Homo sapiens: one gene and its partners. The protein of the gene in region 2 purifies or fractionates together with the protein of the main gene of each other region. This does not show direct contact. Each region holds a gene or a part of one and is shown on either strand. Other genes may lie near its edges. The genes, in order: ATP5MF, DYRK3, TRMT61A, SORL1, EIF3E, TPM1 and GDPD3.

Region 1 (3,578 bases), on a different chromosome or scaffold from region 2:
AGAAGGCCTGCAAGCAGCTGGTCAAGTCTGGGAGTCTGATCTGTGGAGCCAGCAGGCAGGTCCTCCACCTCAGCTCAGATGTCTGGTGGCACCTATTTCTGGGGCACAGTATCCCACCCCCAATGAGGCTCTGATGAAGAGGAAGCAGGGAGGGGCCGCCATAGCCCCTCACTTTTCCCCATCACCCCCAACCCACTAAGCCTCCTGTTAGAGAAGCCGCCTCAGCCGGAGGGCCACAATCCCTGCAGCCTGGGCGTGAGTGCTGCCTGAGGTCTCTCCAGACAGTGCCGGGTCACCTCACCCTGTAGCCCTTGATGCCCCAGGGTGATGCAGAAACACAGGATGCGGGCCATCCCTGCCTGGAGCCACAGGACAGCCGGGGTGGGATCTGGCGCTCTCAGGTACGCAAGCCTTTGTGTTACACCATAAAGGGCCAGCCAACTAAAGGCCAGAATGTCTGCAAATGCACCTGCCCACAGCACTCATGGCAAGGGACGGACTTCGGCACTGCTGCTTCGGGAAGGTCTGGATGACACCCTGCCCTCCAGGGAGCTGGGACACGACCAGAGTGGTGGTCTGGGAAGTCCACAAAGGCCTTCACCGGTCAACGGCCTGGAAAGACGACCTCCCCCCACCTTGTGCCACAGGAGCCCCTGGAACATGGGATAATGGCTACGGCAGACAGGCAGGCAATCAGCACACGTACCAGTCATGTTTTATTTGGAGGTTAATTCCTATTAGGATATGAAAGGATTCAGCAACGATTGAGATTGTGTTCCTCACGGAGGGGCTCGGGCCAAGGTCGTGGGGTGGGGGGGTGCAGAGTGTGTCCTCTTCAGTGGTATTTGCGGAGCCGCTCGTGCTCTGAAGTCAGGAAGGCAAGATGGTAAGTATCTTAAAAGGTTACAGTGAAGGCACAGCATGGCAGGAAGCAGGCTGAGATCACACAAAGCCTTCCTGAGAATTCCCTTCAGAGATGACCCATGACCCGCCTGCCGGTGTCTCTGCAGAATCAGCAGACCCGGGGGGCACAAAGACACCTCAGGAGCCAACCTGCCACCTGGCCAACCACTTTCTTTCCAGAAGGAACAGAGGGAACACACGCTCAGACAAACAGCCCCAGAGAACCCGTCCTTCAGAGGCAGGACCGCCCTGGTGCCACAGAATGGGAGTGAGGTGGGGGTAGGGGGTGTACACTACACTGTCAGAAACAGCCTAGTCAGAGGCTGCCACCGACACCTCCCGCCAATCTCCCACCAGACAAGCTCCTCTCAAGCCTCAGAGCCGGAACAGCCATGCTTTTCTGGGGTACCAGATTATCCCACTCAACTCATTTCTCTTTCTGCATTGGCTACTAGGAAAATCGAGCCAAATTTTCACAGTGTGCTGTATTTTAAAGAATGCTTCTAAGTACTCTCTTTACCCTGGCTTCATCTTGATTTTCCTGTGTTCTCTTTGTCACAATTTTCTCATTTCAAACAATATCCCACATACTGTACTCTGATAGGTCCCTCCAATTCTTTTAGGTGGAAACATAAGGAACTTTAACTAAAGGTCCCTCAGCCTCAGAAGAAGGTGGGCTGCTGTATCTAATGAAATCAGTCACCACCACCCTCTCATGGGAACTAAAGGCAAGACGCCGCAGAGGCACTCACTGAGATGCTTGTAGGAAAAGGAGTAGCTAAAGAGCACGTAGCATGCCAGCACCATGGTAATCCCCGAGATGCTCCCCTTCTTCACATTGATGTACTTGTTGTAGTACCGGTAGTAACCTGCAAACGCAAGAGGCGCTCACTGCCCTGCTGGGCTTCACATTTGAGTGAAGTTGAGCACACAGTTGAGTCTGGCTGACATTCAGGGACCTAGTCCTGCTCTGGCTGTTTAAGCCCCTCGCCCTGCATTCACTGGCTGATAAAGATGACAAGCACAAATGCCAGTAAGGTCTCTCATCCCCATAGCCTGAACTATAAGCACATACCAGCTCCTGAACTAGGCCTACCTGGATTCCACCTCTCCCCTTTGGCTGTGAGCTTATAGCCTCCTGAGTAGCTGGGACTACAGGCATGCACCACCACAGCCAGCTAATTTTTCTTGTGTGGTTTTTTTTATAGAGATGGGGTCTCTCCATATTGCCTAGGCTGGTCTAAACTCGGCTCAAGCAATCCTCCAGCCTTGGCCTCCCGAAGTGCCGGGATTACAGGCATAAGCCACCACACCAGGCCAAGATAGGCCATTTCAAATATTTGTCCTGAAGTTCTGGCAGGGAGGAGAGCATCATATTATAGACTAATGCCCACTACGGTTCCAATTCATTTTCCTCTTAAAGAAGTCTTAGGATTTCTCTAAGACAGAGGCAGACATACTGATTCCAAGCAACAGGAAACATGTTCTTGGCTGTAATATCTCAGAGCCAGCCTTTGAAAGGGCCAATCAACCACAGAAGTCCAAGGCCTAGCATCCCTCCCTGTCATCCTCTACATAACTTACTGCTTTCAGACAACAAGGCCTTCATTGCCCAAATTAATTCATGGCAAAAAAGAGATCTGAAGACCCAGAGATTTGCTTTCATTTACAGACATCCACAAGGCTCTGACCTCTTTGAAACGCTCCGAAAATGCCACTAGGACTGAAGTCCCGCATCAAGATCCAGCTTGGCAGCTCCCCCAGTTTGACCTCCAGAAGTTTCTTGTCCTTCACTGGTACTGAAACGGAAGAGTGAGAAAAAATACCCACTGAATAATCTCCCAGTAACACATATGGCATCCTTTCCTGCCACTGCTTCAACTATGCAATAAAGGTGCATAATGCAATTACACAGAGGCTGCACATACACAATATTATGAAGAAATATGTCACATCAAGCCCACTATTTTAAGACTGAGTCTATACAATAGCAGAACTGCTGCAGGGACAGCTTTATTAACCAACAGGACGTCTGAGTAACAGCTTGCTGGGAGTAACTCCAGAAAAGGGTCTCGAAAAAAGCAGTAACGTGGCGGACAGGAAAGATTACTGCAAAGCTAACATTTACTTGACATTATTAGCTTATTTAATCTTCACAACAAGCACTTCATGTCTTTACCTTAAAGGAGGGGAGGGGGGATAGACTCAGAGAGGTTGGGCCACGTGACCAAAGTCACACACACAACGTGGGGTCAGGACTGGCCCTCCTATGTCCCTGAAGCCAATATGAGGGTGCCCTGTCCAACCCTGGGGATGTGTCGCTGGAGAACGTACAAGAGGGGATGTGGAAGGAGAGCGGTGTGACGGTGCCAAGTGTCTCACTCAGACTTGACGCACTTGTTTACTGGGGAAGGGCTTCAAACAGCACCTGGGTTCACACAGCTGGCAGACTCACCAGATGGGCCAGCCCGAGCAAGTATAATGAAAGAAACCCAAGGAATTTCCACCTCCAGCATCCTGGGACCACGGACACCAACAATTTCCAGAGATAAAAATAAGAGATAACACATTCCGAGAAGTCAAGTGACGAAAAACCACTCCAAATGACTGAACGGCCCCAGATCGTATTCCAATGGGAGTCTGAGAACAAGGAATCAGAAGGGCTCCTGGCTGAG
Region 2 (4,341 bases):
CATGTGTCTTTATAGCAGCATGATTTATAATCCTTTGGGTATATGCCCAGTAATGGGATGGCTGGGTCAAATGGTATTTCTAGTTCTAGATCCTTGAGGAATTGCCACATTGTCTTCCACAATGGTTGAACTAGTTTACAGTCCCACCAACAGTGTAAAAGCGTTCCTATTTCTCCACATCCTCTCCAGCACCTGTTGCTTCCTGACTTTTTAATGATCGCCATTCTAACTGGTGTGAGATGGTATCTCATTGTGGTTTTGATCTGCATTTCTCTGATGGCCAGTGATGGTGAGCATTTTTTCATGTGTCTGTTGGCTGCATCAATGTCTTCTTTTGAGAAGTGTCTGTTCATATTCCTTGCCCACTTTTTGATGGGGCTGTTTGATTTTTTCTTGTAAATTTGTTTAAGTTCTTTGTAGATTCTGGATATTAGCCCTTTGTCAGATGGGTAGATTGTAAAAATTTTCTCCCATTCTGTAGGTTGCCTGTTCACTCTGATGGTAGTTTACTTTGCTGTACAGAAGCTCTTTAGTTTAATTAGATCCCATTTATCAATTTTGGCTTTTGTTGCCGTTGCATTTGGTGTTTTAGACATGAAGTCCTTGCCTATGCCTATGTCCTGAATGGTATTGCCTAGGTTTTCTTCTAGGGTTTTTATGGTTTTAGGTCTAACATTTAAGTCTTTAATCCATCTTGAATTAATTTTTGCATAAGGTGTAGGGAAGGGATCCAGTTTCAGCTTTCTACATATGGCTAGCCAGTTTTCCCAGCACATTAAATAGGAAATCCTTTCAGGGAGGGGTTCTCTTCTTAACTTTCTTTCCTTTCCTGTAAATAACTCAAATACTGGCCTGAATCAATTACATATCAAGTCTGATGTGTTATAAATAAAACCTTCCTTCCATTGTTCTAAAAAAATCTACAGTGTTCACACATATTAAACTATAATTGTTTTAAAACACTAAATATTTCCCCAAATGCCCATCAATCAAGGAGTAGATAAAGAAATTATGGTATATATATATATACCATAGAATACTATTTAGCCATAAAAAAGAATGAAATAATGGCATTCACAGCAACCTGGATGGAATTGGAGACCATTATTCTAAGTGAAGTAACTCAGAAATGGAAAACCAAACATGGTATGTTCTCATTCATAAGTGGGAGCAAAGCTATGAAGACGATGAAAGGGCTTAAGAATGATACAATGGACTTTGGGGACTTGGGGGATAGGGTGGTAGAGGAGTGAGAGGTAAAAGACTACACACTGGGTCTAGTATACACTGCTCGGGTAATGGGTGCACCAAAATCTCAGAAATCACCACTAAAGAACTTATTCATGTAACCCAAACACCACCTGTTCCCCAAAAACCTATTGAAAAAAAAAACACTAAATATTTCTAGTCTAGGGTTATAATCACAATAACCAAGCAATGTATATGACTGACTCTACCAAGTATTTTCTTAACCATGTAATTATATCCAGAGACATGAATAATGTCATATTTATCATGTTTTATTTCATAAGAATGCTTCACATACCCTGCTAATTTGATGGGCTTCTGGCATTTTAAATAGAATCTTCTACTGTATTAATCAAGTCTTAAAAATCTTGCTGAGAGGCCAGGCACGGTGGCTCACGCCTGTAATCCCAGCACTTTGGGAGGCCAAGGCGGGCGGATCACGAGGTCAAGAGATCGAGACCATCCTGGCTAACACGATGAAACCCTCTCTCTACTAAAAATACAAAAAATTAGCCAGGTGTGGTGGTGGGTGCCTGTAGTCCCAGCTACTCGGGAGGCTGAGGCAGGAGAATGGCATGAACCCAGGAGGCGGAGCTTGCAATGAGCCGAGATAGTGCCACTGCACTCCAGCCTCAGTGACAGAGCGAGACTCTGTCTTAAAAAAAAAAAAAAAAAAAAATCTTGCTGAGAAATTGAAAAGGAATAAAGGAATATCCTTCTCACTCAGATATAAAACCCTACCTTTTCCCCAGCTCCCAAACCCTAAATCCCTGTAACACAAAACTTAACCCAATAAAAGCCTATGGGCAGATGATTTATAGTTTACCATGAGAATGTAGGAGCATCTTGAATAAATGAAGCTAGAAAACTTTGTAAAAAAAAGTAACAGGATCTCGGGATAGAGTCATGGCATAATGAAATGTAAGTGGCACCAAGAGGTCAAAAGGCATTTTTTATTTTTATTTTCTTTTTCAGCAAAATGAGTAAAGACAGCCAGGCGTGGTGGCTCACGCCTGTAAAGCCTGCACTTTGGGAGGCTGAGGTGGGTGGATGACCTGAGGTCAGGGGTTCGGGACCATCCTGGCCAACATGGTGAAACCCCATCTCTACTAAAAATACAAAAATTAGCCAGGCATGGTGGCAGATGCCTGTAATCCCAGCTACTTGGGAGGCTGAGGCAGGGAGAACTGCTTGAACCCGGGAGATGGAGGTTGCAGCAAGCCAAGATTGTGCCACTGCACTCCAGCCTGGGCGAGAGAGCGAGACTCGGTCTCAAAAAAAAAAAAAAAAAAAAAAAAGAAATGAGTAATGAGTAAGACATCTAAAATCTTCTTGCTCCCTCACAAAACTGTCATGCCTAACACCATGCAGTAAGAAATTAATTTTTGATCCTGAAACATACAATGTAAGTAACCTACTGGAAGGTAAATAGCATCGGCTAACTCTGAATCAAAGTAAAAATGACTTGGCTGGGCGCGGTGGCTTGCGCCTGTAATCCCAGCACTTTGGGGAGCTGAGGTGGGTGCATCACAAGGTCAGGAGTTCAAAACCAGCCTGACCAATACAGTGAAACCCCATCTCTACTAAAAATACAAAAATTAGCCAGGCATGTTGGTTGGTGCCTATAATCCCAGCTACTTGGGAGGGTGAAGCAGGAGAATCACTTGAACCCGGGAGGTTGCAGTAAGCCAAGATTGCGCCACTGCACTCCAGCCTAGGTGACAGAGTGAGAGTCCATCTCAAAAAAAAAAAAAAAAAAAATCAGTTAAAATGACTTAAAGTCAGATGTTAACACTTCAACCCAATTGCAAATAGTTTCCTATAGAGGTGAACCAATTGGCAGCAAGTAACCAAGCAATCTGATGGGCAACACAAGATGTATATGGTTCTGAAGTTCTTAGACATTTTGACATATTAAAGAAACAACTTGCAAAGAATGGAAAGAAACCCCACTACACTCCAAAAAGGGGACGAAAAATAGGGTGACCAGCCTTCAAAATATTTTTAGCTCACGTTTTGTATACTACTAGTGTTGAAAGTGGGGAAAGGGCCGGGTGCGGTGGCTCACGCCTGTAATCCCAGCACTTCCAGAGGCCGAGGGAAGTGGACCACTTAAGGTCAGGAGTTAGACCAGCCTGACTAACATGGTGAAACCCTGTCTCTACTAAAAATACAAAACTTAGCTGGGTGTGGTGGCAGTCGCCTGTAATCCCAGCTACTCAGGAAGGCTGAGGCAGGAGAATTGCTTGGACCCGGGAGGTGGAGGTTGCAATGAGCTGACATGACACCACTGCACTCCAGCCTGGAAGACAGAGTAAGACTGCGTCTCAGGAAAAAAAAAAAAAAAAAAAAGGAAAAAGGTTGATTTTAAGCAAAAACTGATGACCACAGGAAGGACTATGAAAAATAGAAGTGATTTTTCCATATAGAAACAATTTCAGGTCTTAAACACAGAAACGTGAAAGAGAAATATTACAAATGAGTCAATTCAATTATTCAGTTTGTTCATCTGATGACATATGCAGGAAATTTTAAAGTCATAGGATAGCCTCTCTTTGTCATGGAACTTGGCCAAACCCTGCTCTGCCTACCACTCTATGCATGCTGAAGGAATGCAAATTAATTTTATCTTAAGTTAAAAAAAAAAAAAAGCTGCCAAGCACGGTGGCTCACGCCTGTAATCCCAGCACTTTGGGAAGCCGAGGCGGGTGGATCACGAGGTCAGGAGTTCAAGACCAGCCTGACCAACATGGTGAAACCCCTGACTACTAAAAATACAAAAATTAGCCAGGCGTGGTGGCACGCGCCTGTAATCCCAGCTACTCAGGAGGCTAAGGCAGGAGAATCACTTCAACCCGGGAGGCAGAGGTTGCAGTGAGCCAAGATCATGCCATTGCACTCCAGCCTGGGTGACAGAGAGAGACTCCACCTCAAAAAAAAAAAAAAAAAAAAAAAAGCTAAGTGTCTGCAGTCCCCAAAATGATTAAGTGCATTAAAAACCAAACTGTTGTAGTTATCATCTATCTATAAAATGGTTCTCTTTAGTATACTAATAAACGAAGACTGCATTTCCACCGTGCAGGGGAAAAAAAA
Region 3 (3,530 bases), on a different chromosome or scaffold from region 2:
CATTTGAGTTGAAAATGATGAGGAGGGACCTACGAAGAGCCAAGGGACAGCTCTGCACCAAGGAGGAGCCGTGCCGAGGCCCTGCAGTTGGAGCATGCTGCCGAGTCAGGCTCAGTGGGGGAGGCAGAGGGGCTGGGAGTGAGGTTGGAGGGGAAGCGAGCTCCACCCCGGAGGCTAACAAGTCTGACTTGCCCCTTAGTGGGAAGGGGGCATGGCCAGGCTTTGCAGAGGGGCGAGGCAGCAGGCTGGGGGCACCCAGGGGAGGGGCTGGACAGGTGGGGAGAGGGGCTGGCCCCTGAAAGGAATGTGGGAGGTGGCAGGACGTGGGACGGGATAGAGGGAGTGGAGGCACCTCCATGGGTCTGGCCCAAGCACTTGCGATGCTCAGCGCTATTTGGGTTCCAGGCATGGGTGGCAAGTGTGCAGTGGCTGCTCTAGCAGGAGTCTCCAGTGGAGGGGCCTGGGGATGGGAGTGGCATCAGGTAGATGGCCCCTGAAGCTGGAGTGGGAGGAGGGATGCAAGCCTTGACCCTCTCCATAAGACAGGAAGTCAAGCAGAGGGGCCATCTTGAGGGAAGCTGGGGAGGGAAGCTGGGGGCAGGTGCGCTGGGGAGGACTGGGGCCGTGTGGCTGGTGGCCAGGCCCTGCGTCCTGAGTCCAACCAGGCCAGGGCAGAGCCCCAGCCCCTGTGTGGTGGGGGCAGGTTTGGGCAGGCTTGGTGGGGGTGGGCTGTCTCAAGGGGACCAAGGAGCTTCTGGGGAGAGGTGGGCATGAGGACCGGCAGGGTGGGCCACTGTTGACGGGGATTGAGGAAGTGATGGGCCATGCATGGAATAAGACAGGGCTGAGTGATGGGATGGCCTCCCTGTCCCCCTTGCACAGATTTCCCCGGAGGCTCCAGGCAGCTGGGCTGCTCTCATTCCCTATACCTGCGCTAGGCAGGATAGGGCAGGGTTGCCACTGGCCTCGCCTGTGCCCACAACAGACAGCACGGCATACACAGCCTGTCAACCCCAGCTCACCCCTAGACAGGGTGCCCAACCCAGGGCTAGCCTGGGGCTTTAGGCAGCCAGGACCATACAGCCCTGGAATGACGCCCACCTGTAGCTTGGGGTCCTCCCAAGCCCTGTGTGGGTCTCCAGGGTGAGGTGGGGGTTGTTTCCTGGGAGGCTGTGGGTCCCGAGCAGTCCCAACTGATGCCTTGCCCATCCCTTCTTGTCCTGCCAGGCACCGGCAGTGGCTCTGTGTCCCACGCCATCATCCGCACCATTGCACCCACGGGTCACCTGCACACGGTGGAGTTCCACCAGCAGCGGGCAGAGAAGGCCCGGGAGGAGTTCCAGGAGCACCGTGTGGGCCGCTGGGTGACTGTGCGCACCCAGGACGTGTGCCGCAGTGGCTTTGGCGTGAGCCACGTGGCCGACGCCGTCTTCCTGGACATCCCATCACCCTGGGAGGCCGTGGGCCACGCCTGGGACGCCCTCAAGGTCGAAGGTGCATCCGGGGTTCCGGGAGAGGTACAGCCTGGGTGGGGGTGGGGCAAGGGTGCAGGACTGAGCTCCTGGGATCTCAGAGGGGTCCAGAGACCAAGCCACACCATGGCAGTGGCCAGGCCAGGGCCCCACTTTGGCCTGAGGTGAGGAGTGGGTCAGGCTGGCCAGGGGAGGCAGAGCTGGGGAGGATGGTCCCTGGCTGGGCCCTGCTCCTGGTCTCTGGCCTCTCCCAACCCCCTGATGGAGGAAGGTGGCAGCGCCACCCAAGTGCAGGGCAGGCCCGGCCGGAGGAGTCTGGAGTCCCCTCCCTGCTGTTTCCCAAAACCTCTCCTCCCCCAGGCTCTGGAGCCCAGGGAGCTGGCCCCTTTTAGGGAAGATGCTGGGTGCGGAGGCGGGGCAGCCCTGGGGAAGGTCGGGCCTCAAGCCAGGGAGGTGGCTGGGAGGCCCAGGGTTTTTCCCTTTTCTGGAGAAGGAGCAGCTCAGGCAGCAGGGGCCCCTTCCTTCTTCCCAGCTGAGAGTTGTATTCTGAGAGGGTTGAAGGGTGGAGGTGCTGGGCGCCCCACCCCACCTCAAAGATGAGCCGAGGCCTGGTGCGAACAGCAAGGCTGTGGCCGGGGGTCCCCTGCTGGCTCCAGCCCAGCCCTGACTCCTGGGTCCTGGTCTCTGCTGAGGTGGGTAGCTGTGGGGATCTCCACACCCTGCCTCCTAGGCTTCCTGCTCTGGGGACACTTCTGGGCCTGGACCATAGTCCCAGGGAGGCTGAACCCGGCAGAGCCTCCCCTGGGGCCCCCCTGCTGCCTTTGTGACTCCTTCCTCCAGCGTGGCTCGGGGAACCCGCGCCTGCCTCTGGGACCTGTCCCTTTCCCTGCGAGCTCCCCCTTCTGGGTCCAAAGGCTCCTGGCTCATTCATGGGCCCGGCATCTCCTGCCGGCCACGGGAGCCCGCTGGGGAGGATGCGGCATGCTCAGCCTCTGTGCCCTGTCTAGGCTGTTGTCACACAGCAGGTGCCTCCTCTAACCCCGAACCTCCTGGCGGCCCCGTGTTAGGGTACAGCTGAGGAGACCAAACCTCAGGGACGTTTGAGGACACTTGCCTGGGCCACATACCTCTACCCGGCCCTGGCTTCCCCAGGTCCTCCCTGCCAGGACAGGGACCCGGGCTGGGTTCTCATTCACTGCAGGCCAGGCCAAGTGAAGCCCGTGGCTGCCCTGGTGGGAGGCGGCAGGGAGGGGCTGTCATGCTCGGGCTCTGCTTCGAGTAGGCGCCTCCTGTTCCCGGGAGCAGCGACAGCCTCTAATTTCCTGTGACAGCAGCGGCCCCCGCACCGCCCCACGCTGCCGTGCTGTCAGAGCTGCTCCGGGCCCAGAGCTCCAGCAGCCCTGTGGAAGGCAGGAGAGCAGTGCCCGCTGTGGGCCAAGTGAGACAATGGCAGCGCGGGCTTGACCCGGTGCCTGGCACATGGGAGGGCCTGGCATGGCTAAGCTGGGTGACATGAACAGCGGCGCCAGGCCCCATGGGGGGCTGTCAGTTGAGGGCCAGGCCCCTCTGCCCTGCAGTCCCAGCTCTTGGAGAGCTTGCAGTCTGTGTTGGGGCTGTCTTAGGCTGGCCTCAGACCCTAGGGTGGGAGTCCAGGGATGCTAGGGCCAGACGGGCCAGGCTCTGCCACCCCTGCCCTCTGACCCTCGGGTCCTGTTTCCCACAGGCGGGCGCTTCTGCTCCTTCTCACCGTGCATCGAGCAGGTGCAACGCACATGCCAGGCGCTGGCAGCGCGCGGCTTCTCAGAGCTGAGCACCCTGGAGGTGCTGCCACAGGTCTACAACGTGCGCACTGTCAGCCTGCCACCGCCCGACCTGGGCACAGGCACAGATGGCCCTGCCGGCTCCGACACCAGCCCCTTCCGCAGCGGCACGCCCATGAAGGAGGCCGTGGGCCACACCGGCTACCTGACCTTCGCCACCAAGACCCCAGGCTAGGGGGCCGCCTCCCAGGGCACCAGGGAGCTGGGAGCACTGAAGGGCTGGGCAGGGAGGCCAGAG
Region 4 (4,341 bases), on a different chromosome or scaffold from region 2:
TGCAGGTGATGCACAAGCACCCACCTTTTCACAGGCTGTGGGGCGACCACTGCACAACTCAAATACTGTTGGTGCAAAATGGTGTCAGATGAGCCAAGGTGCAGAGCTACTGATGCTTATTGGTCCAGGTGGGTCAGAAGAGTTAGGAAAGTAGGCAGGCCTGGCAGTGAGGTTTGAAGGAGAGTTATGCCTTGATTAGATTAAGCAGTGGGGCAGGTAGGCCCAGGATGGGATGTGGCAAGAGCAGACAGCAGTGAGTCCGCATCAGGCTTGGAGAAGCAAGAGATGACCAGCCTGGCTGACGGGAAGGAGCAAGAATATGAGTCCCACCTGTGGACTCTTCATTGCAAGGCTGTGACATTGAGAATTTGTTTTATGGGAGTGTGGAGTCATCGATTGCCTTGGAACGTGGAGTGACACGGGATGGTGAAATAAGTAAATGCTCATTTGCTTATTTACTTATTTGAGTAATTTACTTATTGATACTGCTTTGTCCAGATCATCATGCCCTGGAAACTGGGGCTTACATGGTTCTAGCTCCTCTTTCAGACCACTTGAAAATTGTCCCATGAGTCAGAGGAAGGAACAGCGCATTGTGACTAGAAGTTGGGGCAGGTTTCGCAGATGGGTCAGGTCAGGGAAATAGGCAGGCATGGAGGGGGCATGTCTGTAGCAGAAGCTGAGTAGCCATCTTTGGCAATGGGGGTCTTTAAGGAGCTCCGATCCATCTCAGCCTCTTTTCCCCCTGTTTTTGTCAGGTAGCTAATCCAGATGGCGACTTCCGACTCACAATCGTCAATTCCTCTGTGCTTGATCGTCCCAGGGCTCTGGTCCTCGTGCCCCAAGAGGGGTAAGTGTTGCCCCAAAAGGAAATCAGTCTTGCGTCCAATGCTACACTAATAGATTCTCATGGAAACACAGACTGCGGGACAAAAACTCTGTTTCTCATGATGGTGGTTGAAATGGTCTATTAACTGAGAAGTTTGAGACCACAGCTTAGTCATCGTGGTCAGGTAACTCCGTTCGCTTTTTGTTAGCCAGTGTCAGAGTCTCTTTAGGCATCCAGATGTCTTGCATCTGTGGGTTGTTTCTCTAGAAAAGTTGATGTTAAAAGAGAGCTTCTGTAGACATAGACAGGCCTGCTTGGATATTGTGAGAACTTTCTCTTGAGTTTCATGCATGGTACAAACATTTAATTCATTCCATCTTTCCCCTGCCTTCCCAGCATGTGTAGGTTTTCTTACGTACAATCAGTGTGCACTTGGGGAAGGCAAAGGTGCTTTTTATTAACTCATTAACTGAAGGAAACATAATTAAGAGGGAAATTCTGGATTTGACATTCTGGCTTTTCCTCTCTCGTAGCATTTATGATAGAGAATTGGCACAATTTTTTTCAAGGAAAATTCTAAGAGTAATGTATGTACTTGGTTGACAATATTTAGAGAGAACAGCACTTTATGAAAAAAATTTGCATTCTTCCTTTTCATTCTTAACCCTTTACCCTCACACTTCCTAGTGGTAATCATTGTTAATAATGTCTTGTGTATCTTTCATGATTGCTTTTACTTATGTACAAGTATTATCTTTAAAACACACACATATACACACACATGCACGCCAAATAGGATTGTAGTGTAGTTACTATTCTGTACCTTTTTAAACAAACTTAATATGTATTGAAAATAGTTCTGTGTGAGCATATATAGATTTTTAGGTTTCACAGTATTCTATTATATGTACCATAATGTGTCACTTCCTCTGCTGATTAACATTTAGTTTAATATACATACATATACATTTCTTTGTATATTATCTTTGCATAATTTGATTTTATCTATAGATAAATTCTAGTAAAGGAATTTCCAGGTGAAGGAATTTAAGTAGTTTCAGGTGTTGTCATTACATATTGTTATAATAATGCTGAAATAACCAGCCGGATCATTCGAAAGGAGTTTCTGACCTTTTCTGGAGTAGTATTTGAGCTCCCATTTCTCTAGTATTGATGAGGTATGTGTTCTGTCCCCATTTTCGCTAGGGTGATGTTCTGGACAGACTGGGGAGACCTGAAGCCTGGGATTTATCGGAGCAATATGGATGGTTCTGCTGCCTATCACCTGGTGTCTGAGGATGTGAAGTGGCCCAATGGCATCTCTGTGGACGACCAGTGGATTTACTGGACGGATGCCTACCTGGAGTGCATAGAGCGGATCACGTTCAGTGGCCAGCAGCGCTCTGTCATTCTGGACAACCTCCCGCACCCCTATGCCATTGCTGTCTTTAAGGTGAGTCCATTTGTTGCTGCCGGACAGTCTGCTAGAGCGGGTGAGGAGCATATGAGATCAGGAGCCTGCATCCCTGGGCTTTGCAGAGAAGCTGTTTAACTTCTTAAAGGTTGCCTTTTTTCCAAATTTGAGATAACTTATTTTCAGCCTATGGAGGGATGCCAGGCAGAGGCGCCAAGGGTCCAGGCTCCCCTGCTGTTCACATTTCAAAAGGTTAAAAGTGAAGGCTCTTCCCATGAACATTCCCAGTTTGCCCCTCAGTGTCAGTAGCCTCATTTCAGGGTGGTGTCTTCATTTTTTGTGCGCTTTGCTCACTTTATTCTCTGATGACTTCCGGTGAGCTCTGCACCACCTATAGTGCCTTGCAGTTCTTTTTCGACTCTGGAGAGCAACATGGCTCTTCCCAACTCTGGGAAACAGATTTCAAACTGAGGGGGTTGGGTTTGTGTCATAAACTTGAATGCTTATCAGATAGTTTCTTTTGGGCAGTTTCTTCTGTGGGGTTATATGGTGAGGTTTGGATAAAATTGCTGTCCTTTGCATTTAAGTAGAATCTTGATCAGGCTAGTCATTCAGCCAATAAATGTTAGTTGTCTCCTGCCTGGGGGAACTCTTACCCTTAGAGAGAACCAGAATAAAGAACGAAAGAGCTGGACTAATGGGCAAAGGTTTTCTTTTTAGAATGAAATCTACTGGGATGACTGGTCACAGCTCAGCATATTCCGAGCTTCCAAATACAGTGGGTCCCAGATGGAGATTCTGGCAAACCAGCTCACGGGGCTCATGGACATGAAGATTTTCTACAAGGGGAAGAACACTGGTAAGCCAGAGTCTCTTCTTTTGTCTCTGTAGAGTTGATCTCAAGAAAGGGGCTGCGTGTGGCCAATCTCTGCTCAGAGTAGGAGCTGGCAGCCTGCATCTTTGTTGTCACGACAACATGCACATTATTTAATTTCTTCCTAATGACATCTTAATTTCTTTTCTAATGATACACAAACAGCTGGAAGACAGCATGCTTTTGCCTGCCTAGAGTGTTGGTGCTTGGTGGGTAATTACACCCTCCTCCTGCCCTTGGCCCCTGACTGATTGGTGGCGCGGCTTCTGTTGCAGCTGGGAGAGTCCTAACATGTGCTTAATCCCTGTTTGGCATGCTTGCAGGAAGAGACTCTGTGCTGGGTGCTCAGATAGTTGTTGCTTCCTGACAGGGCCTCTTGCTTGTTCTCTGGTTGCCCAGATGACCTATTGCTCATTGACCGTACCTACCTCTGCTGGAATGGCACTGTGTAGTTAGGTGTTGTTTTAATTAACTTTTCCCACCATGAAACCCTAAACCCCATGAAGAAAGAGATGGTCTTTTTTATTCCCCGATAGTTTTACCAGTGTCTAGCACTTTGTAGGTGCTCAATTCATATTTGTTGAAAGAATAAGGGATGAAAAGGGAGGGGAAGAATTGCAGTGGGTGCAGACAGTAGCTGTCTTAGAGATCTACTGGGTGAGGCTTCAAGAACTGCTATGAGGCTTTGACCTGCTAGTCCTGGAGTCTGAGACTATTCAGTGGAAAGCCTTTATCATTTCATGACTGCTCTTTGATTTTGCTTATCTCCCAGCCATACTATTGATTCTAGAGGAGAAAGATCAGAGGATTACCAGGAAGAATAGTCCCTTTAAGAATTTCCCTCTTTATCTCAGCAGGATTAAATGGCATCCTGGGTTTGCTGATTCTCCTTTATTGACAAACTGCTAAGTTTTCTGTTCTTAACTGGAATGTTGATATTGTTTTATGGTTCTTGGCTGACCCTATACTAGGAGAAAATTGACAGGGGAAATAATACTGTTATAGATATCATTGTTATCCTCTTGGGATTGTGAAGATAGCATGAGAACACCCTGGGAAAACTATAAAGTGTCTTACAAATGTAAGACGATATTATTTGTTATGTCTTCACCACTGACCTGTGAGGTAGGGAAGGCTGGTATTATGATCCATGGTTTATAGATTAGGGAATTAAATCTCAGATATGAATTAGCTTTCCCAAAATATCCTCACTAGTTTAGGGGC
Region 5 (4,341 bases), on a different chromosome or scaffold from region 2:
CAGGGCATTGTCCCATGTTGATCATCACAACAGCAAGATTTGCTAAATATTAGCCAAGACCCTGTTAATGTTTACCTGACATCTATTCCTTCCTAATTCCTACTGCTACCACTTTAACCAATGTCTTGTAATATTGTAATATTCCTTCCCCGTTGCTTCCAGTCTTTCATCCCCTGAATTATTTAATTTAAGTGGCTGATTTTCTCATTAGTATGAGTGCTTTGCACATAGGTTTTCACACATTTTTTTCTAATGGGTGAATGAAAGTCATCGCTTAGTAGCCTTTTGGAACAGACTGACAGCATGTCAATGAACCTTGCAAAATCCTGTTACTCAAAAATAATAATAGGATAATTAGCCTCTTGATTGAGTCTTCCATCTCACCCCATATTAAAGAAATAGTGGCTAGCATTCTCCTCATTTGGATTCCTGAAACTGGATTCTGTTTTTAAATTTCCTTGGAGGAGATTTTCTTATAATACTCATTCTTAAGTGTTTGCAGTCTTAGGCTAGTGAAATAGTACAATCTAATGACCTGCTCGAGAGTTTTCTTTATCTCACCCTGGGTAAGTTATTAAATAACTTTTATATTTTTTCTTAGATATCTTAATGCAATTCAGACAATGTGTCCACACATTCTTCGCTATTTGACTACAGCAGTCATAACAAACAAGGATGTTCGAAAACGTCGGCAGGTTCTAAAAGATCTAGTTAAAGTTATTCAACAGGTAAAACTAAAATATATATTGATTTTTTTTTTTAAATACCTAAGCTTTAGGTCTAACCTCTTTTTCTAAGGTAAGACTTAGTTCTTAAGGTACAAACGTTTTTAAAAATAGGTGGAAGGAATACTTGAAGTTTAGAAAAGAGAAGACCCTCAAATGGGCTTTTGTTTTCCTTAAGTCCAAGATACACAAGTTGGATGTGGTAGGAATGATTATTACTGTCTGCTAGATGAACACTTAATATATACATTATGTGTATGTGTTTCTCTTATTGCAAAGAGTGAAGAAAATCTGGAACCTGGAGGTGGGGGTCATTACCTGTGTAATTCTACATGGGTGAACTTTATATACAATACCGTTTCAATAGACCCCAAGTTGGGCAAAAGGTTTCAGGCAGCCATGCTGATTGATATTTAGTGAGCTTGTCAGCAAAACCCGTAGATTAGAAATATAACTTAAATATTTATTTAAGAGTGTATTAAATACAAAGAAGTTATTGTCATTCAGTAGGGAATGAATACCCTTATGATTGGGGAAGTTTATTACTGTTTATTGACCAAGGGAGACTTTTGGTAGTAGAGGAATTTGAAAGCTTTCAGAATGCTTCTAGGATGAGACTTTAGAGAACTTGGTTTGAAAGACATAATAAGCTTAAGGTGTGGTCTGGAATCAGGATAGGAACAATTGTTTTGGGAAGATGCTAGGTAATTTGGCTAGAAATTAATGGTAAAGAAGGAGAAAACAAGAAGATTGGGATATTCTGGGGCAATCTGCTAAACAATGTTGAATCAGACTTACCTTGACCGTTGACTTATTTTTACAGGAGTCTTACACATATAAAGACCCAATTACAGAATTTGTTGAATGTTTATATGTTAACTTTGACTTTGATGGGGCTCAGAAAAAGCTGAGGGAATGTGAATCAGTAAGTGTGAATTTTTATTTATAAACTAATACTATTCTTAAATTTTTGGATATTGTAACGTTAATCTTGCAGTGTCTTCCTTAAAGTAATGAAGTAATTATAACGGAAATATGCTTATTAATCTTAAAAAGGCCTAAATGGCTCATGTTTATTAACCTTAAAATGGCTTAAATGGCTTGTGTTTATTAATCTTAAAATGGGAATGTGCTAGAGTGATGACTTTTTTAATGTTGTTGCCATGTGTTTATCCCTTTTGTGAGGGAGTTTGTTAAAACATTGGGGGTAATTTAAATTTACAGACATATCCATAATTTCATGTCTTAAATCTCGAATGAATATTTTTAATATTTCATATGTACAGGCAAGGTCACTTTGAATTGCAAATAACAACTGTGTTTTTAATTTTGGTTCATAGATGGGCTTATCTTTAGAATATTTCCCATGGTTGTATTTAACATTTGTGATAAACCAGGCAATTCATTGTAATTACGAATTTTATAACGGCGGTGTCTCTTATTGTTTAGTAGAAATTAAAGTACCTTTAGAGCAAATGGAAGACTTATAGTTGTTTTGAATAATTAGTTTACAAGTTTTAAGAAACTAAACTAAGAATTCTAACTGCTAAATGTAGTTGCATTTACCAGATTCACAAGTTACTGGTTATCAGTTTCACCCTTGGAACCAAAATTTTGGCACAAAATGGGCAATTTGTTGACAAATATCTTACTTCTCTAAGGAAAAAAATGATCATGCAAATATCCATTCCCTGATGATTTTCTTATTTTATTTTTTTTCAGACAGAGTCTCACTCTGTTGCCGAGGCTGGAGTGCAGTGGCATGATCCCGGCTCACTGCAAACTCCACCTCCCGGGTTCACACCATTCTCCTGCCTCAGCCTCCCAAGTAGCTGGGACCATAGGCGCCCACCACCACGCCCGGTTAATTTTTTGTATTTTTAGTAGAGACAGGGTTTCACCATGTTAGCCAGGATGGTCTCGATCTCCTGATCTTGTGATCTGCCCACCTCGGCCTCCCAAAGTGCTGGGATTACAGGCGTCAGCCACCGCACCTGGCCTCCCTGATGATTTTCAAACATTAGATGGAATAGAAAATTAGAATCCAATATGGTAATTGGTGTTTTTTTTTGTAGTCATATATTGCATTATTAAGGTAAATATTGGCGTATATTCATTATGCTAAGTGTCTAGGTTTTGATGTTAAAAGACCTAGAGGGTACTTGGTTGCTGTTCTTGAAATTAAAATATTCTCTCTTAATTACACCATCTGTGGAATAGTAGCCACCTTTTGCATTCTTTTCCTTCTAATTTCTAAGTCTACTTAATATTGTAGAAATACTCCGAGCTTGTAGTCCATTTATAATTATTTTAAATAGTTGGAAGAGATAACATTATCTGCAGAGCATTTATGTAGAATAATGGATAGTACCAAACTTTGTTGTCAGAAGGCTACTTTATTAAAGTTATCAGAAACATTGCAGTTTTTAGGTCTTTATCTTGTGGTATTCGTTTACTACTTATTTAAATCATTAAAGATTTGAACACAGTGTTCTAGAAAGTGCTGTGGTATAAAACTCATGATTGTAGAATGGAAAAATAAAGCAGATAAAGTATTTGATTCACGTTTCAGGCAATTGCTTGTCAGCATCATTAATTTTTGTTGTATTTGTACATATAGGTGCTTGTGAATGACTTCTTCTTGGTGGCTTGTCTTGAGGATTTCATTGAAAATGCCCGTCTCTTCATATTTGAGACTTTCTGTCGCATCCACCAGTGTATCAGCATTAAGTAAGAACACCGTGATTTGATTTGGATTTTCTACTTTAAAATTCCTGGAAATTTCCATTTATTGTGAATTTACACTTAATAGAATTCCAGTTAATTGGATTTTTATTTATTTTTGCTTTCAGAAGAACAATGAAACAATTTGATAAAATTATTTAAAAACCTAACTTTTGCTACAGGCTCAGATAGTTTTAGCTTGAGTGGCATAATTTTTCAAAATACTAAGTTGAAGGCAATATATGATTATCAGTTACCTTATTGAAGAGTAAATACTCTTGTACCTTTACGTAAGGAGAAAAGTGTAGTAAACATTTCTAAAATGGTTTTCAACAACAGTACAAAGGAGATACCCATTAAATTGGAAATTCTGTTGAAAGACCACTACATTTGGTAATCCTTTCCATTTAGTTTGTATGATTTAATTACATATTTGACTTCTCCTATAGTAAACTCCTATGGCATCTTAAAATGTTGAAAGATGGAAAAATTATAGTGAATTTTAGTTGTAATTTCCTGTTTTGTCAGAAAATATTGGGAAAAAATTGTGAAATGTACATAACCTATTAGAAATAAATTGTACACATTACAGTTTGAAAAATGACTAGTGCCCTTTGGGCACAGAGGAAGTCAAACAAATGTTTAAAAACCTACTGCTTTAGTGTTTGCTTCTGAGGAATTGTGCATAAAACAAATTCTTTTTCTTTAATGCCATTTGTTTTTGCTTATCCATACTTCGCTTGCCTAATTTTAGTGGGCCGTCCGTTGAAGTGGTTGTCCAGAGTTAGAAGGATAGTATAATCATGGGATTTTTCCTATGGGAATTGAATCCTTGCCTTCACAGTTTTATTAGCACTTTACTGTAGCTTGCAGACAGAATTTTTTAAACCTG
Region 6 (4,307 bases), on a different chromosome or scaffold from region 2:
GTACAGTCTTGATTCCCGAGTGAGGCCATCTGCTTTGTTGGCAGAAATGGGTGGTTTTGAGAAGCAGAGTTCCTTTGTGTCCAGAAAACGGTTCTAATTTTAATCCTGCTAGGGGATCCCAGGCTTTATCAGGAAGCCAATCAGTAGCACTGCGAAGAAGGACCAAAACTCCTCTCCCCCAGCCACAAAGACCCGGACAAAAGATCTTTGGCCGGAAGGGAGAGTTGGGCCCTGTGTCTTGTGAAAGGAGGCTCTCATGCTGTCATGGTGCAAGTCATTTCTTCCCAGAGTGACCTGGCACATCCAGATTGGGCAGCTTAGAGACCACAGACAGTTTCTCAGTGGATTCACAGAGGCCTCTCTCCTCAAGGGTGGTAGAAAACTATTATCAACGCAGGTTTTCAGCAGAATTTGCTCCTGGTCGTGTCCCCATGAAAACAGCCTCCTGTGATAAGAGGCAACTTGATTATTAAGGTTTCTGTTTTTTCCTTATTGGATCACATCGTGGCTATCCTGAAACAGCATTGCCCCTCCTTTTTATTACCATTATTACCTTCAGATTACACTATGCTCACAAGTTTTGATCTGCTTCAGAGGCTCCCTTCCTCTCTCTGGTTCTTCCACTAAATACAAATTTGATTTTGTCAGTTATCTCACCAACTTGTCTCACGTTAGTGTCTCTTGTATTCTTCCACTGCAGTAAGGAGGTAGATGCACAGATCAGCCATCAAATTGATGGAGTTCTTAGGTTTACTTTGTTTTCCTGGCAGCCCCCACCTTTTTAGTACATGTCTCATCCTACTGCTGTTTTTGAGATTGTGAATGTGTATTTTATCCCTCCTTCCACATTTTGGTCTGGCTGCCGGTTCACCTAGGTCAGACTTCCAATTGAGACTGCCCAATCACAGCTAACCATTCTGAGTCAAAGCAGAAGCCTCTGATCTCCTCTCTGCTGGCACTCCTAATAGAGAGTTGCTTCTCTCTGGTCTACCAGAAAGAGGATCATATTGTTTGTAGACAAAACCCTTAGGGCCTGATGGGATCTGATCTCTACCCCCATGCCCTTCTGTTACACAAAGCTTGCAAGACCCATGGTGTGTGTGTTGTGTCTTCCTGCTGCAGGTGGCCCGTAAGCTGGTCATCATTGAGAGCGACCTGGAACGTGCAGAGGAGCGGGCTGAGCTCTCAGAAGGGTAAGCGGGCCCGGCGCCAGGAGGCCACGAATGGGGTGCTGCAGAGCAGTGACTAAACAGCATGACCTTCTGGCAGCTGCACATTACCTGTTTCAGCTCCGGGCTCCTTTTGTGCTCATTTGATGTGGATGAGCCACGAGTATGGAACATGGAGGACTCGTGTGGGGTGTCTTATGTATGAATGCGTGTATCACTGCATGCCTTACCTGCACACTGATTTTGTGAATGGCCTTGTGCATTTCCTGTGTCCACTAACAGCCAAGTCCGACAGCTGGAAGAACAATTAAGAATAATGGATCAGACCTTGAAAGCATTAATGGCTGCAGAGGATAAGGTACTGATGGCTCGTGTGGTTTTTAGGTTTAACTGCAACCCAGACATCTTTCAGCTTCCAATGCCTCCTGGTTCGTTTGGTATAACGACTGCACCTTCACTTCACCCTCTGCTATTTATATCTTGCCTTAAGTGCTTTCCCTTGGTCCTTTATGCTCCTTTGTTTTCCCTTCATAAATGCTCTTTGGGCAGCCAAAAAAGGAGCCAAATTATCGCACTTCAAAGTTGTTGGATTTGGTCACCCTGCCTTCTGCTGTTGCGAGGTTGGGGGGCAGTGTTCCTGGAAAACCTAAACATTTTAATACCTGATGATTTGGCTACTTTAAGGCAGCCCTTCGTCTCTAGGACTCAGTTTTCATTTTTTCCCATCCCTCTCCTTTTTCTCTCCTCCTTCCTTTGGCTTGTCTCCCACCCTTTCTGCCTCTGATCGAAAACATTAGCAAATGTGCCGAGCTTGAAGAAGAATTGAAAACTGTGACGAACAACTTGAAGTCACTGGAGGCTCAGGCTGAGAAGGTAGGCCAGGAGGATGGTGTGGGGGAAAGGCATCTTTTAAGAGCTGCTCAAAAGAGGCCCTGCCAGAAAGCAACACTTACAGTAGACATTTTAGTAAAATGGCAATATTGTGAGGTGATTTTTGGAGAGTTACTAGATAACAAATTCTTTTTTTTAACTAGAGAATTTATTTTATGTTAGGGATATGAGGCATCAATTTAATTTAAACCAAGTGCCAAGTGGATAAGTTATCTTGTTGTTATCCCATGTAAAACAATAGGCAAGAAAGCAGAGAATGTATTGCAGTGTGCCATTTGATATCAGAGGTTCCATTACCTCCTAAGAGATCCTTAACATCTGTTGGCTGAGCTGGCGAGTTCTTTGCATGAGAAGCCATGAGTAGATTGAGCTGCAGCCTGACATCTGGAATGCTCTTTCTAATTACAGTACTCGCAGAAGGAAGACAGATATGAGGAAGAGATCAAGGTCCTTTCCGACAAGCTGAAGGAGGTAATATGAGAGTTGTGGATGAAGCCAACTGGATTTTAAATGAGTTTGTTTTCATGGAACCGGTCAGGGCCTTTTCATTTTAAAGTTCCAATGATCCAAGTCAGGAATATTCAAAGGTCGCCTTGGAGTTTATGTACTGTGCTAACTGCCATTTCTCACAGAGGTGACTGAAACTGACAAGTAGTTTCTGATCCATTTTATAGGTGATGTGCTTCATTTTCATCCTCTAGTTTTCCCTATGTTTGTAGCTACAGGAAACATAAAACTTCCCAACTTTAACTCAAATAAATCATTACAGGCTGAGACTCGGGCTGAGTTTGCGGAGAGGTCAGTAACTAAATTGGAGAAAAGCATTGATGACTTAGAAGGTAAGATCTTAAGTAGTGTTTTTAGTTTAATCCTTATGGTTGAATACCAACCTGGCAAAACAATTTTCCAATTCAAGGGCATCCACATTGATACGCTCCTTTGCACTTGCACATTCTTCCTGTGTGTCCTCTGGGGTTTTTCTCTGTGGCTCTTGAACTCATGAACCTAAGTCTTCTGCTCACGAGGTGACTAGTTAGCCACCAGCCATAGTGGCAAATGCCATCCAGCTTGACTTCATGCTCATTACAAGTGTGGCAGGTTTATTTTTCACTGTGAGTGAGGTGCTTATTGGTGAGAATGACTCTAGTATATTTTATATCTTTAGTGTTACTTCCTAATTAAATTGGGAATGATGTGGTGATTGTGGTCTTGTTTTTAGAAGAACCCATCTTCTTCCAAGTATGAATTCAAAGTAAGGATTTAGGGGTTATTTTAAGTCATATATTATCTTAACAAAATACTTTATATCCTGAAGGAGGAGGGAAAAATTATACTTAAGCATTTCTTCCCTAAGGCACTTAGGTTTTATTTTAGTAATAACCACTCTATCTCACAGATATCCTAAATGTTGAGCTTTGAAGCTTGTGAAGGATTAGCTGTGAACAAGAAAGAAAAAAGACAAATATCTACATCACAGAAGGGATTAGAGAAGGAACTAGTGTTTGGTGCAGATAATAACCAAAATAGTGGAGAAGAGAGAATGACAAATGGTTGCAAAATGATCTGCCAAAGTGCAGCAAAGTATGAAACCTGCAGCATTACAAAAACTAAGTTGCAGACTTGCCATATAAAGTGTGGCGCCCATTGCTTTTCAAGCCTCCTGGACCAGTAATAGGCAGCTTGAGTGGGAAGACCACAGGAGTAGCTTAAATGGCACTAAGAAATCGCTATCCCAGTGGTCTAGTGTGGTCAGGAAGTCAGTGGTTTGAAGGTGGAACCAGATAAGGACTACAGGCTGTAGTCACAAATTGTTCTTCCAAAACACTGCCCTTGCATTTTTTTCCCATTGTTTATAGCTGCAGATGCCTGACTACTCCAGTGTAATTAAAATATAGCTCTGCAAAAGAAAGATGTTCCATTAGCCCCTGCCTCCCCTCACCAGGAGACAGCCTTCTGTGGTTTCGTTTACAATTTAACATGGTTTACTGATATACCTACCATATTTGTTAGGATTTTCATATTGAGTCTTTTTCATTTTATTTTCTAATGGGTTTTGTTCTCTTTGTTTTTGTTTCAATTTACTTAAAACAAAACGCACGCCTCCTGCATTGGCCACCTGCTGCGGCACCAACCCCTTCATGCATTGCCCTTTTCTTGCTGCTGTGTTGGGATGGTGCGCGCACCACCCTCACTCACCCTCCATTTCTTGATCACTCTCCATGTTCTTGCACCTCTGCCTTCCACTTC
Region 7 (3,955 bases), on a different chromosome or scaffold from region 2:
TCACTGCGCCTCGACCTCCTGGGCTCAGGAGATCCTCCTGCCTCAGCCTCCTAAGTAGCTGGGAGTATAGGCGTGCAACACTGCACCTGGCTAATTGTTAAATTATTTGTAGAGACAAGGTCTCACTATGTTGACCAGGCTGCTCTTGAACTCCTCAGCTCAAGCGAGCCTCCCACCTTGGTCTCCCAAAGTGCTGGGATTACATACCTGAGCCCCTGGGCCCGGTCTCCCTTTGCTTTCTGACAGCTTCTCTGTGGTAGTCCCAGAGCTCTCTGCTCCCCTCTGTTGTCCAGAAGGAAGTCCCACTCAGCCCCCACAATACCTTGCTACAAAGAGATCAATGATATTTGTGTACCACCTTTTTATACCGGATTTTTTTTGTGTTTTTTGAGGAGTCTTCCCCTGTTGCCCAGGCTGCAGTGCAGTGGCGTGATCTCGGCTCACTGCAAGCTCTGCCTCCCTGGTTCACGCCATTCTCCTGCTTCAGCCTCCCGAGTAGCTGGGACTACAGGCGCCCGCCACCACACCCGGCTAATTTTTTTGTGTTTTTAGTAGAGATGGGGTTTCACCGTATTAGCCAGGATGGTAATCTGACCTCATGATCCGCCTGCCTCGGCCTCCCAAAGTGCTGGGATTACAGGCGTGACCCACTGCGCCCGGCCTTATACAAGATTTATAAAGTGTTTTAACATATTTTGGGTTGACTTTTACCTTGCAGCACCCCCAGGAGGTATAAGAATCATGACTCCCATGGTACCCTAGAGAATCTGAGGCCCAGAGAGGTTCTGTAATTTGCCCAAGGACACACAGCTGGAAATCCAGAGCTTAGGTTTTCCCTGGGTCTGACTCCAGAGCCTGCCCTAGGACACTGTCAAGGGTCTCTAAAGTCACCCCTGGAGTGGGATAATTAGGGGTCGTCCCACTAAGTGCTGTCTGGTCTCAAGAAGCTGGCCAATGGGCACAGTGGCTCACGAGGTTTTTTGTGGGTTTTTTGTTTGTTTGTTTGTTTTTGAGACGGAGTTTTGCTCTTTTTGCCCAGGCTGGAGTGCAATGGTGCCATCTTGGCTCACCGCAACCTCCGCCTCCCAGATTCAAGCGATTCTCCTGCTTCAGCCTCCCAAGTAGCTGGCATTACAGGCATGCACCACCATCCTGGCTAATTTTGTATTTTTAGTAGACACAGGGTTTCTCCATGTTGGTCAGGGTGGTCTTGAACTCCGGACCTCAGGTGATCCACCCGCCTCGGCCTCCCAAAGTGTTGGGATTACAGGCGTGAACCACCGCGCCCGGCCATTGTTTTTTGTTTTTGAGAAGGAGTCTCACTCTGTGGCCCAGGCTGGAGTGCAGTAGTGCGATCTTGGCTCACTGAAACCTCCGCCTCCTGGGTTCAAGCAATTCTCCTGCCTCAGCCTCCCAAGTGGCTGGGACTACAGGGTCTGCCACCACGCCCGGCTAATTTTTGTATTTTTAGTAGAGACGGCGTTTCGCCATGTTGGCCACGCTGGTCTCCTCCCACCTCAGACTTTCAAAGTGCTGCGATTACAGGTGTGAGCCACCACACTTGGCTGGCTCGTGCTTATTATCCTGGCACTTTTGGGAGGCTGAAGCGGGAGGATTGCTTGAGTCCAGGAGTTCAAGACCAGCCTGGGCAACATAGTGAGACATGTCTCTACAAAAATTTTTTAATGGCCGGGCACGGTGGCTCACGCCTGTAATCCCAGCACTTTGGGAGGCCAAGGCGGGCGGATCACAAAGTCAGGAGATCGAGACCATCCTGGCTAACAGGGTGAAACCCTGTCTCTACTAAAAATACAAAAAATTAGCAGGCGTGGTGGCGGGCACCTGTAGTCCCAGCTACTCAAGAGGCTGAGGCAGGAGAATGGTGTGAACCCAGGAGGCGGAGCTTGCAGTGAGCTGTGATCGCACCACGGCACTCCAGCCTGGGCGACAGAGCAAGACTCTGTCTCAAAAAAAAAAAAATTAATTTAAATTAATAATAAGATAAATAGATAAATAAGAAGCTGGCCAGGCCCAACCAGGAGGGCCTGCAGCCTGGATGTCCAGCTTTGGAACCAAGCGAGGCCCTGGCCCAGCCCCACCACCACTCTGCTTTGGGTCTGGCAAGTCCCTTTCGTTCTCTAAGGCCCAGATTCCTTATCTGGTGAATGGTGACTGGAGGGCCACACCCTTGAAGCGTGGTGGTCAGAGTAGGCTCTCTGAACAATGGGTGAATTGTTCACTGGGGCAACTACAAAGGTTATTCTGGGGGATTCTGGGGGGTGGGAGGGCAGCGCTACCCTAGTTGGCGGGGGCACTACCAGCCCACCCCACCTCTGGGACAGGGGAGACCCTAGGAGCTAACCCCCACTTCCTTCTCTCTGCAGGACCTATTTCCCATTTTCCTGCTCTTGCCTGAACCAGTTATTGGCTGTGGTTTCGAAATGGTGAGGTGGGCAAGATGGCTGGGTGGCGTGTCCCCATAGAGACCTACTGCTGCCCTTCTCCCAGGTCCCCTCTCATCATCACCTCCCACGTCCCCACCCCACCCCCAGGCTGATCATGAGGAAGAGTCTGATCCGACACTTGGAGGAGCGAGGGGTGCAGGTGAGGCCGTGACCACCACTTCCACCGCACACAGACCTGGCAGCAGGGTTCCGGTCCCACTCTGCTGCCAACTAGCTGCATCACTCGGGCAGGTGACCTCACCTCAGTTTCTTCGTCCCTAAAATGGGAAAATGGTATATTTAACTCTCTGGATACACACACACACACACACGAACACACACAATTTTCTTCTTCTGTGTGTGTGTGTGTGTGTGTGTGTGTGTGTCAAGAGTCTCACTCTGTCACCCAGGCTGGAGTGCAGTGGTGCAATCTCGGCTCACTGCAACCTCCACCTCCCGGGTTCAAGCGATTCTCCTGCTTCAGCCTCCCCAGTAGCTGGGACTACAGGTGCCTGCCACCATGCTTGGCTAATTTTTGTGTTTTTAGTAGAGACGGGGTTGCACCATGTTGGCCAGGCTGGTCTCGAACTCCTGGCCTCAAGTGATCCACCTGCCTCAGCCTCCCAAAGTGCTGGGATTACAGGTGTGAGCCACCACGCCTGGCCACGCACATATTTTCTTAACCTGACATTGCCAACATATGGATATGTAACTAGTACTTATTAAGGGCTTGATAAATGTTAGCCATTATGATGACAACAATGATGTATCATGATCCCTGATGAGAGGGGGCTGGGGAAAGATGAGAGATGGGAGAAACCAGGCCCAGCCCACCCCCCTCTCCCCTGAGCATTGGCTTCCACCAGATCATTTAATTAGTAAACGATCCTTGAGAATGTTCCAGGCACTATGGTACTAGGGGTGGGAGCTTCCCATCAAGGGTACAGGGAAGAAATGCCATAGGCAGAGGCTGGGCACGGCTCCCACCTGTAATCCCAGCCCTTTGAGAGGCCAAGGTGGGAGGATCACTTGAGCCCAGGAGTTTAAGACCAGCCTGGGCAACATACTGAGACCCTCGTCTCTACAAAAAATTTAAAAATTAGCCAAGCGCAGTGGTTTACACCTGTAGTCCCAGCCACTCAGGAGGCTGAGATGGGAGGATCACCTGAGCACGGGGTTTCGAGGGTGCAGTGAGCTATAATCAGAATCACGCCACTGCACTCCACACTCCAGCCTGGGAGAGATAGCCAGACTGTCTCAAAAGAGAGAGAGGAAAGAGCGTGAGAGCCAGAGACAGGGAGAGGGAGGAGAGGGAGGGAAACAGGAAAAAGGAAAGGAAAAGGGAAAGAAAAGAAAAATGCAGAGGCAGGGTGCAGTGGCTCATGCCTGCAATCCCAGCACTTTGGGAGGCCAAGGCCAGCGGATCAACTAAGGTCAGGAGTTCGAGACCAGCCTGGCCAACATTGTGAAACCCCATCTCTACTAAAAATGTAAACATTATCCGGGTATGG

Evidence for each region.
Region 1: the proteins of DYRK3 (region 2) and ATP5MF purify together in Homo sapiens (affinity purification with mass spectrometry; one large-scale study listed by BioGRID and IntAct). This does not show direct contact.
Region 3: the proteins of DYRK3 (region 2) and TRMT61A purify together in Homo sapiens (affinity purification with mass spectrometry; one large-scale study listed by BioGRID and IntAct). This does not show direct contact.
Region 4: the proteins of DYRK3 (region 2) and SORL1 purify together in Homo sapiens (affinity purification with mass spectrometry; one large-scale study listed by BioGRID and IntAct). This does not show direct contact.
Region 5: the proteins of DYRK3 (region 2) and EIF3E purify together in Homo sapiens (affinity purification with mass spectrometry; one large-scale study listed by BioGRID and IntAct). This does not show direct contact.
Region 6: the proteins of DYRK3 (region 2) and TPM1 purify together in Homo sapiens (affinity purification with mass spectrometry; one large-scale study listed by BioGRID and IntAct). This does not show direct contact.
Region 7: the proteins of DYRK3 (region 2) and GDPD3 purify together in Homo sapiens (affinity purification with mass spectrometry; one large-scale study listed by BioGRID and IntAct). This does not show direct contact.

What each region holds. Positions count from the first base shown.
Region 1 is NC_000007.14:99,457,492-99,461,069, forward strand, and holds the end of ATP5MF (ATP synthase F(0) complex subunit f, mitochondrial), read right to left. Parts: intron 2,703-3,578; coding exon 2,595-2,702; intron 1,773-2,594; coding exon 1,656-1,772; intron 865-1,655; coding exon 836-864; 3' UTR 704-835; downstream 1-703. Other genes in the region: ATP5MF-PTCD1 (ATP5J2-PTCD1 fusion protein), read right to left, coding at 2,595-2,702. UniProt on the Homo sapiens protein: Subunit f, of the mitochondrial membrane ATP synthase complex (F(1)F(0) ATP synthase or Complex V) that produces ATP from ADP in the presence of a proton gradient across the membrane which is generated by electron transport complexes of the respiratory chain.
Region 2 is NC_000001.11:206,638,134-206,642,474, reverse strand, and holds part of DYRK3 (dual specificity tyrosine-phosphorylation-regulated kinase 3), read right to left. Parts: intron 1-4,341. UniProt on the Homo sapiens protein: Dual-specificity protein kinase that promotes disassembly of several types of membraneless organelles during mitosis, such as stress granules, nuclear speckles and pericentriolar material.
Region 3 is NC_000014.9:103,531,355-103,534,884, forward strand, and holds part of TRMT61A (tRNA (adenine(58)-N(1))-methyltransferase catalytic subunit TRMT61A), read left to right. Parts: intron 1-1,227; coding exon 1,228-1,494; intron 1,495-3,195; coding exon 3,196-3,467; 3' UTR 3,468-3,530. UniProt on the Homo sapiens protein: Catalytic subunit of tRNA (adenine-N(1)-)-methyltransferase, which catalyzes the formation of N(1)-methyladenine at position 58 (m1A58) in initiator methionyl-tRNA.
Region 4 is NC_000011.10:121,556,556-121,560,896, forward strand, and holds part of SORL1 (sortilin-related receptor preproprotein), read left to right. Parts: intron 1-758; coding exon 759-850; intron 851-2,035; coding exon 2,036-2,282; intron 2,283-2,963; coding exon 2,964-3,102; intron 3,103-4,341. UniProt on the Homo sapiens protein: Sorting receptor that directs several proteins to their correct location within the cell. Along with AP-1 complex, involved Golgi apparatus - endosome sorting.
Region 5 is NC_000008.11:108,213,721-108,218,061, reverse strand, and holds part of EIF3E (eukaryotic translation initiation factor 3 subunit E), read left to right. Parts: intron 1-601; coding exon 602-728; intron 729-1,548; coding exon 1,549-1,650; intron 1,651-3,345; coding exon 3,346-3,455; intron 3,456-4,341. UniProt on the Homo sapiens protein: Component of the eukaryotic translation initiation factor 3 (eIF-3) complex, which is required for several steps in the initiation of protein synthesis.
Region 6 is NC_000015.10:63,059,747-63,064,053, forward strand, and holds part of TPM1 (tropomyosin alpha-1 chain), read left to right. Parts: intron 1-1,122; coding exon 1,123-1,193; intron 1,194-1,451; coding exon of another isoform or gene 1,452-1,527; intron 1,528-1,966; coding exon 1,967-2,042; intron 2,043-2,468; coding exon 2,469-2,531; intron 2,532-2,829; coding exon 2,830-2,899; coding exon of another isoform or gene 2,900-3,063; exon of another isoform or gene 3,064-4,307. UniProt on the Homo sapiens protein: Binds to actin filaments in muscle and non-muscle cells. Plays a central role, in association with the troponin complex, in the calcium dependent regulation of vertebrate striated muscle contraction.
Region 7 is NC_000016.10:30,106,862-30,110,816, reverse strand, and holds part of GDPD3 (lysophospholipase D GDPD3), read left to right. Parts: intron 1-2,384; coding exon 2,385-2,444; intron 2,445-2,552; coding exon 2,553-2,604; intron 2,605-3,955. UniProt on the Homo sapiens protein: Hydrolyzes lysoglycerophospholipids to produce lysophosphatidic acid (LPA) and the corresponding amines. Shows a preference for 1-O-alkyl-sn-glycero-3-phosphocholine (lyso-PAF), lysophosphatidylcholine (lyso-PC) and N-acylethanolamine lysophospholipids.